2 separate regions of the Homo sapiens genome follow, and region 2 is linked to region 1. The links come from fine-mapping of genetic effects on gene expression. A gene starts in region 1. The other region holds a variant in brackets. All regions are shown on one strand. Distances are between the middles of the regions.

Region 1 (2,895 bases):
ATGAGCCTGGGGGGGCTTTGAAAACTCGAACACCAGATTGCATCACCGGGTCCCAAACCTGCTGATGGCTCCCGAGGGCTCTGGGAACATTCAAACTCCAAACTCCTCACCATGCCTAAGAGGCCCTTCTGTGTCTCCAGCCTCGTCAGCCAGTTCCCCACTACGTTCTAGCTCCTACCCACCCCTGAGAGCCCCCTCACTCCCCTCACTTAGCATTTGAGGCCCCCCTCACCTCACCCCTTCACCCCAAGGTGAAGTCACAGCTCCTAAAACACTCTTCCCTAGACTGAGTCTGGACATCGGCTGAGGGGACACGTGCCCTGCTAGGTGGGCAGTGGGCAGGAGCTGTTGGACGCATCTGGTTCACAGTGAGGTCAACAGCCTTGCCTGGGGTCCCATGTCACAAAGGCTGAGGAGGATGAGGTGAGAGTCACAGCCACGGCGCCAGTTCTAGATCCCAAACTCACCAACCTCTGGCAAACAGGCCCTGCGTTCCAAATCTGCTCTAGCCATGACTGCCTTCCCCAGGCCTGTTTCCTCCTCTGGACAAGGGAGGTGGTAGCATTTGAGCTAAGCTCCGCTCTTCCCATGTCGGCAAGTGGGGGCTGCAGCTCCAAGGCCCTGGGAGAGATGGAGAGTGGGGGTGGGCCACGGTTGGGGTTCGGTGGGGGAGCGACCAGCGCTGCTGATGAATCATTCATGAGGGGCGGGCTGCCCCGGAGGCAGTTTCCCCAGCAACGCAGCTTAGTGTCTCCAGCAAGATGCCAGGAGGGTCTCGGATTCCCGGGATTCCCAGGCCCGTCTTGGCCATATCCCTGCCTCCGGTTCCCCACCGTGGTCATGCCTCTGCCGTTGAACCTCCATCCCGGCTGTGCCCGTCTCCAGTCCCCGGACCCCATTCTGTCCCAGCTATGACCCTGCCTCCGGTCCTACGGGCTGCTCCTGGCCCCATGGGAACCATGCCCGTCTCCAGCTTCCCTCTCCCCAGCTGACCTGAGGAAATGCCGCTCTTCGGGCGCCTCCGACGGGTCTGGGCCGGCTGCGCTGCTCATGGCCGAGGTGAGCCCGGGCGCCGGGCGCTGCCGCCACCGCCACCGCCTTTTAAGCGCATCCGTGGAGGGAGGGGACGCCCCCTCTTCTCCTCCCTCCCGCCCACCCTGCATGCCCGCCAATCAGGAAGCGCCGCGAAGGCGCTGCGCGTCACCATTGGTCGGTGGACTCAGACGGACTTCACCCTTTCGTGCCAGGAGCCCACAGCAGAGGCACCTGGCCAATCTTGGTTGCTTCCCCCGACTTACTTTCCCTGCAGATATCCCCGTGTCTCTGAGCTTCCCTCTCAGGGAGCGAGGAGCCCCTCCGCAGACAAATACCCTCGCCATGCCTACAATTGGCAGGGCTGCACAAGGTATGGTGGCTCACGCCTGTAATCCTGTAATCGCAGTGACACGGGAGGCTGAGGCGGGAGGATCACTTGTATCCGGGAGGTCAAGGCTCCCCCCACTCTCCAGACCTCCGTGGAGAAGGTCTGACCCAAAGCTGACCCAGGGGCCCCCAGCCTGGAGAGGTAAGTGGGCTGCTGACAGGCATGGTTTCAAAAGGGAGGCAGGAGAGTCCAGGTATATCGGAGGCAGAGAGGAGGCCGCCAGTGGATCCAGGGGCAGCCCCTAGGTGTGTTTTGAGGTCACCCTGTGCATATCTGCTGCGTCCCCATGCTACATGTGATCCGGTGGTGCCTAGCTGGGCCCTCTCCCCCTTCTTTCCCCCAGTCCCCAGGAAAACAGGCAGGCCAGGTCTGCAGAGCATTTATTCCGTCCCAGTGGGGAGGGGCAGGGATCCAGGTGGCCGGAGGGCACAGGGCCTACGTGTACCACATGAAGCCGTGGCTGGCATGGAGAGCCTCCTCTGTGGTGCGCAGCCCGTACAGCTCCCCGATCAAGGGGGGCACCCAGCGGGTTGTGTGGAACACAGACTCCCCCACCTGTGGGGACAGTGGGGTATGGGTAGAGGCACAGCCACCCATATACAGCCTGCTAGGACCCATCCCCCAGGATCAGTGGCCCCTGTGCGTGGCAGGCGCTACAGCCTTCCCTTGTGGGACCTGGCACCCACCACCCCCTTGGTCCTGGGGTTTCTATAGAAAGCTGTGGGAGCTCCCCAACCCCAGGCCCTGTCTCTGCCGTGGCTGGCACCTCTGCCCTCCCAGCCGGGACCCACCTTCCAGTCGGGCACGTCCTTCATGATGATGGCCTCCTCCTCCAGGTTCTCCCGAAGCATCTGCAAGGTCCTGTGGGGATGGGGCCGATGGTGGGGGTGGGGCCTCAGTGCCCTGAGGGGCCCCTGCCTAGGGCCCCTAGTAGCACCCCTTCAAGCCTCCCTCCGACCCTGTCTCCTTTTCCCCCAGCCAACTCCTAGCTTTTCTCTTGCCCCAACCCCAGTGCTGCCTCCTCCTCCAGGAAGCCTTCCGGTTCGCCCCCTTGGGTCTCCACTAAGTCTCCACGCCTGAGGATGCAGCTGACGGCACAGGGCGATGGCCCCCACGTGCATTCTGGCCACCTTCGGGGATGCAGGTCAGGCCCTGCAGCCTGGGGCCTTCCGGCCAGTGACCTCCCAACCTTGGCCCCTGCGGTGCTACCTCCGGTCGGTTTCTGCCTGTAACAGTGGCAACAGCGCGATGCGAGCCTCGAAGTCCTCGATTTGTAGGCGCCTGTGAAAGCCCGAAACCCACACTCAGGTCAGACCAGGCTAGGTCGGGGGAGCACAGGCAGCACAGACCTCAGGGGCCAGGGTGCTGCTGGGGGAAGAGGCGGAGGGGGGCGGGGAGGCAGGCAGGGGGCAGGGCGAGGGTCGCGGGAAGGGCAAGGGCTGTGGGCAGAGCCCACCAGGAGCCTGAGAGGA
Region 2 (2,895 bases), 290 kb after region 1:
GTGGGGTAGGGTGTGGGAGGAAAGAATTCCTCACCTTCCCCAGCCTGGAGGTGGGCTGGGTGGGGGGAAAGATCTAGAAGGTGGAAATGAAGAGGGAAGAAGCAGGTACAGGGATGGAGGAGGACCCAGAGCCCCTCCCTCAGCCTCTCTGTGGGCTGGGGGCCGGGTGAGGTATGTATGGGAGGGGAAGACTCAGCCCCTTCCCCAGCCTGGAGGTGGGCTGGAGGTTGAGGTGGAGAGGGAAGGAGATAGAAGTGAAGTTTACAGAGGTGAGGGAGTACACAGATGCCCTCCCTAACCTCTGTAAGAGCTGGAGAAGGGAAGGGGGAAGGAAGGGAGAAGGAGAGAGATGAGGGGGAGGAAAAAGGAGGAGGAGTGAAAGGGAGGAGGGGCAGGAGTGGGAAGAAGGATGGGGAGGAGGGAGGAGGAATGGAAGGGAGGATGAGGAGCAGGAGGGAGGAGGGGGGAATGGGAGGAGGAGGGGGAGGAGAAAGGAGGAGAAAGATCAGTGGAAGAAGGAGGGGGAGGAGTGGGAGGGAGGATGGGGAAGAGAAAGGAGGAGGAAGATGAGTGGAAGGAGGAGGCAGAGGAATGGGAGGGAGGAAGGAGAGAAGAGGGAGGAGGAAGGGAAGGAGAAAGGAGGAGAAAGATGAATGGAAGGAGGAGGGGAGGAGTTGGAGGGAGGAGGGGGAAGAGTGGGAGATGAATGGGGAGGAGAAAAGAGGAGGAGTGGAAGGGAGGAGGAAGAGCAAGGGGAAGAGGAAGGAGAAGGAGGAGGAGTAGAAGGGAGGAGGCCTGGGGAGGAGCAGGAGGGAGGAGGGGATGAATGGGAGGAGGGAGAGGCAGGATGAGGAGCAGAAAGGAGGAAGAAGATGAGTGGAAGGAGGAGGGGGAGGGAAGGGGGAGGAGAGGAGAGAGGAAGAGGAGGAATGGGAGGAGGAGAGGGAGGAGGGGAGGGAGGATGGAGAGGAGAAAGGAGGTGGAAGATGAGTGGAAGGAGGAAGGGGAGGAGAGGAGGGAGAAGGGGAGGAGTAGGAGGGAGGAGGAGAAAGAATGGAAGGAGGAGGGAGAGGAGGGGGAGGGAGGATGGGGAAGAGGGAGGAAGAGGTATAGAAGGAGGAGGGGGAGGAGTGGGAGGGAAGATGGGGAGGTAGGAGGGAAAGGAAGGAGGAGGAGGGTAGGGGGCAGGCATGAACCCCTCTCCCAGCCTCAGTGTAGGCTGGAGGTGCATCCT[C/T]ACCCCACCCTCCACAAGTGGGGACTCTGGCTACCCTCTTTTAGGGGGGTGAGGCATGGGAAGAACCGGAAGTAGGCCCAGGCTATCCCAGGGTTTGTGGCCAGGAGAAGCAGGAGTAAACCCGGGCACTGTTGCATCTTTGCAGAAATGAGAAGTAGGGGACAGGAGACGCCAGTGGGCGCTGGACGGGCAGATAGGTGAGAAGGCGCGAGCCAGTCGCTCAGGAGGGAGAGGCCCAGTGGGATACATCAAGGAAAAAGAAACAAATCAGGGAAGGAAGAAAGGAAGGAGTCACGAGGGATGGGATGGTGGCAAACGGAATAAACAGAATAAATGGATGGATGAGCAGAAGGCAGAGGGATAATGAATAAATCAATAAGTCCCGGATTACATGAATGGAACACTTGTCTCTCTCCTAGGTCTTTGAACACATTACAGGTGCTTCTCCCATCACCCTCCATCTCCTGGCCCTGTTTTGTTATCAGCACACATAGGATCTGTTGAATTACAGTATAGACTTATTTACTTAGATATTTACTTGTTTGTCTATATCCTCCCCAAGAAATGGTCACTCCCTGGGGACAAAGCAAAGTCAGCCTTGATTGCTGCTGTGCTGTGTCAATATTCCTGGAATGGTGCCTGGCATATAGCAGGTGCTCAGTAAATATTTGGTGAATGAATGAATGAAGTGAATGTATGAATTAACAAGTGAATTGACAGATTTCATGCATTAAGAAGCAGTCAGGGCTTGCGTTAATGAACACAGCTTTGGAAAGATGACGTCTTGAAAACCAGGGGAGGGATGCGATGCCCTGGCAAAAGGGCTACAAGTGCCACCCCTGCCCACCCTCCAGGCAGGTGGCCCCCTCCCCAGAGCCCCTACTATTAATGAAGCTGTGTTCCTCCGGTGAGTGGACGCTGGTCAGGTGGCCGGAGCGGCGGCGGCAGTCCTTCTCGGCATCTTCCCATGCCCTCCGGTGGGCAAAATAGCGGTAACAGTGGCCCTGGAACTTATGCCAGCCGCGGTCACAGCCCTCGGTGTCTGGGAGATGGGATAGGAGCGTGAGGGGGGGCTGGCCTTGGCCCAAGGCCTACCAGCCATGAGCACAGCCAGCCCACCAGAGAGAGGGCCCAATCCAAGGTCACTGCGGGGCGAAATCACCCCTCTCCCCATGCCTGGCCCCTCCTCCTGAGGCTCTGCTCTCCCAACCCTTTCACCTCCCATATTGACTTCTTTTTTTTCTTTTTTTTTTGGACAGGGTCTCACTCCGTCGCCCAGGCTGGCGTGCAATGGCACAATCTCGGCTCACTGCTACCTCCGCCTCCCATACTCAAGCAATCCTCCCACCTCAGCCTCCTGAGTAGCTGGGATTACAGGCGTGCGCCACCACGCCCACCTAATTTTGTATTTTTAGTAGAGATAGGGTTTCACCATGTTGGTCAGGTTGGTCTCAAACTCCTGGCCTCAAGTGATCTGCCCACCTCAGCCTCCCAAAATGCTGGAATTACAGACGTGAGCCACCACACTGGCCAAATCTTAATGTCTTTTCTTTGTTTCTGGAAGAGATTTAACTGGGAGATCATTCCCTGACACCCCCTCTCATTCCAATGCTGAAGGCTCCTTCTCTGATGTCGGGGCCACACCCTTCGTATGGACATGG

Evidence for each region. PIP is the estimated chance that this variant, and not a neighbour inherited with it, causes the effect. A credible set is the group of variants that fine-mapping cannot tell apart.
Region 2: its variant is the best candidate, but not a certain one, in a credible set for the expression of YJEFN3 in tibial artery (GTEx, PIP 0.67).

The regions. Positions count from the first base shown.
Region 1 is chr19:19,527,090-19,529,984 of GRCh38, reverse strand. It overlaps YJEFN3 (YjeF N-terminal domain containing 3), which reads right to left and starts at 1,074. Exons shown (of 7, transcript NM_198537.4): 1 at 994-1,074; 2 at 472-621. The coding sequence starts at 1,052. It overlaps NDUFA13 (NADH:ubiquinone oxidoreductase subunit A13), which reads right to left. Exons shown (of 5, transcript NM_015965.7): 3 at 2,633-2,704; 4 at 2,215-2,284; 5 at 1,787-1,978. The coding sequence ends at 1,859. RefSeq lists enhancers at 1-339, 1,315-1,815.
Region 2 is chr19:19,237,634-19,240,528 of GRCh38, reverse strand. NCAN (neurocan) reads right to left here. Exons shown (of 15, transcript NM_004386.3): 11 at 2,118-2,276. Among named protein-coding and RNA genes, the nearest start is that of HAPLN4, 24 kb to the left of the region's middle. The variant C/T (reference allele first, on the strand shown) is at 1,235.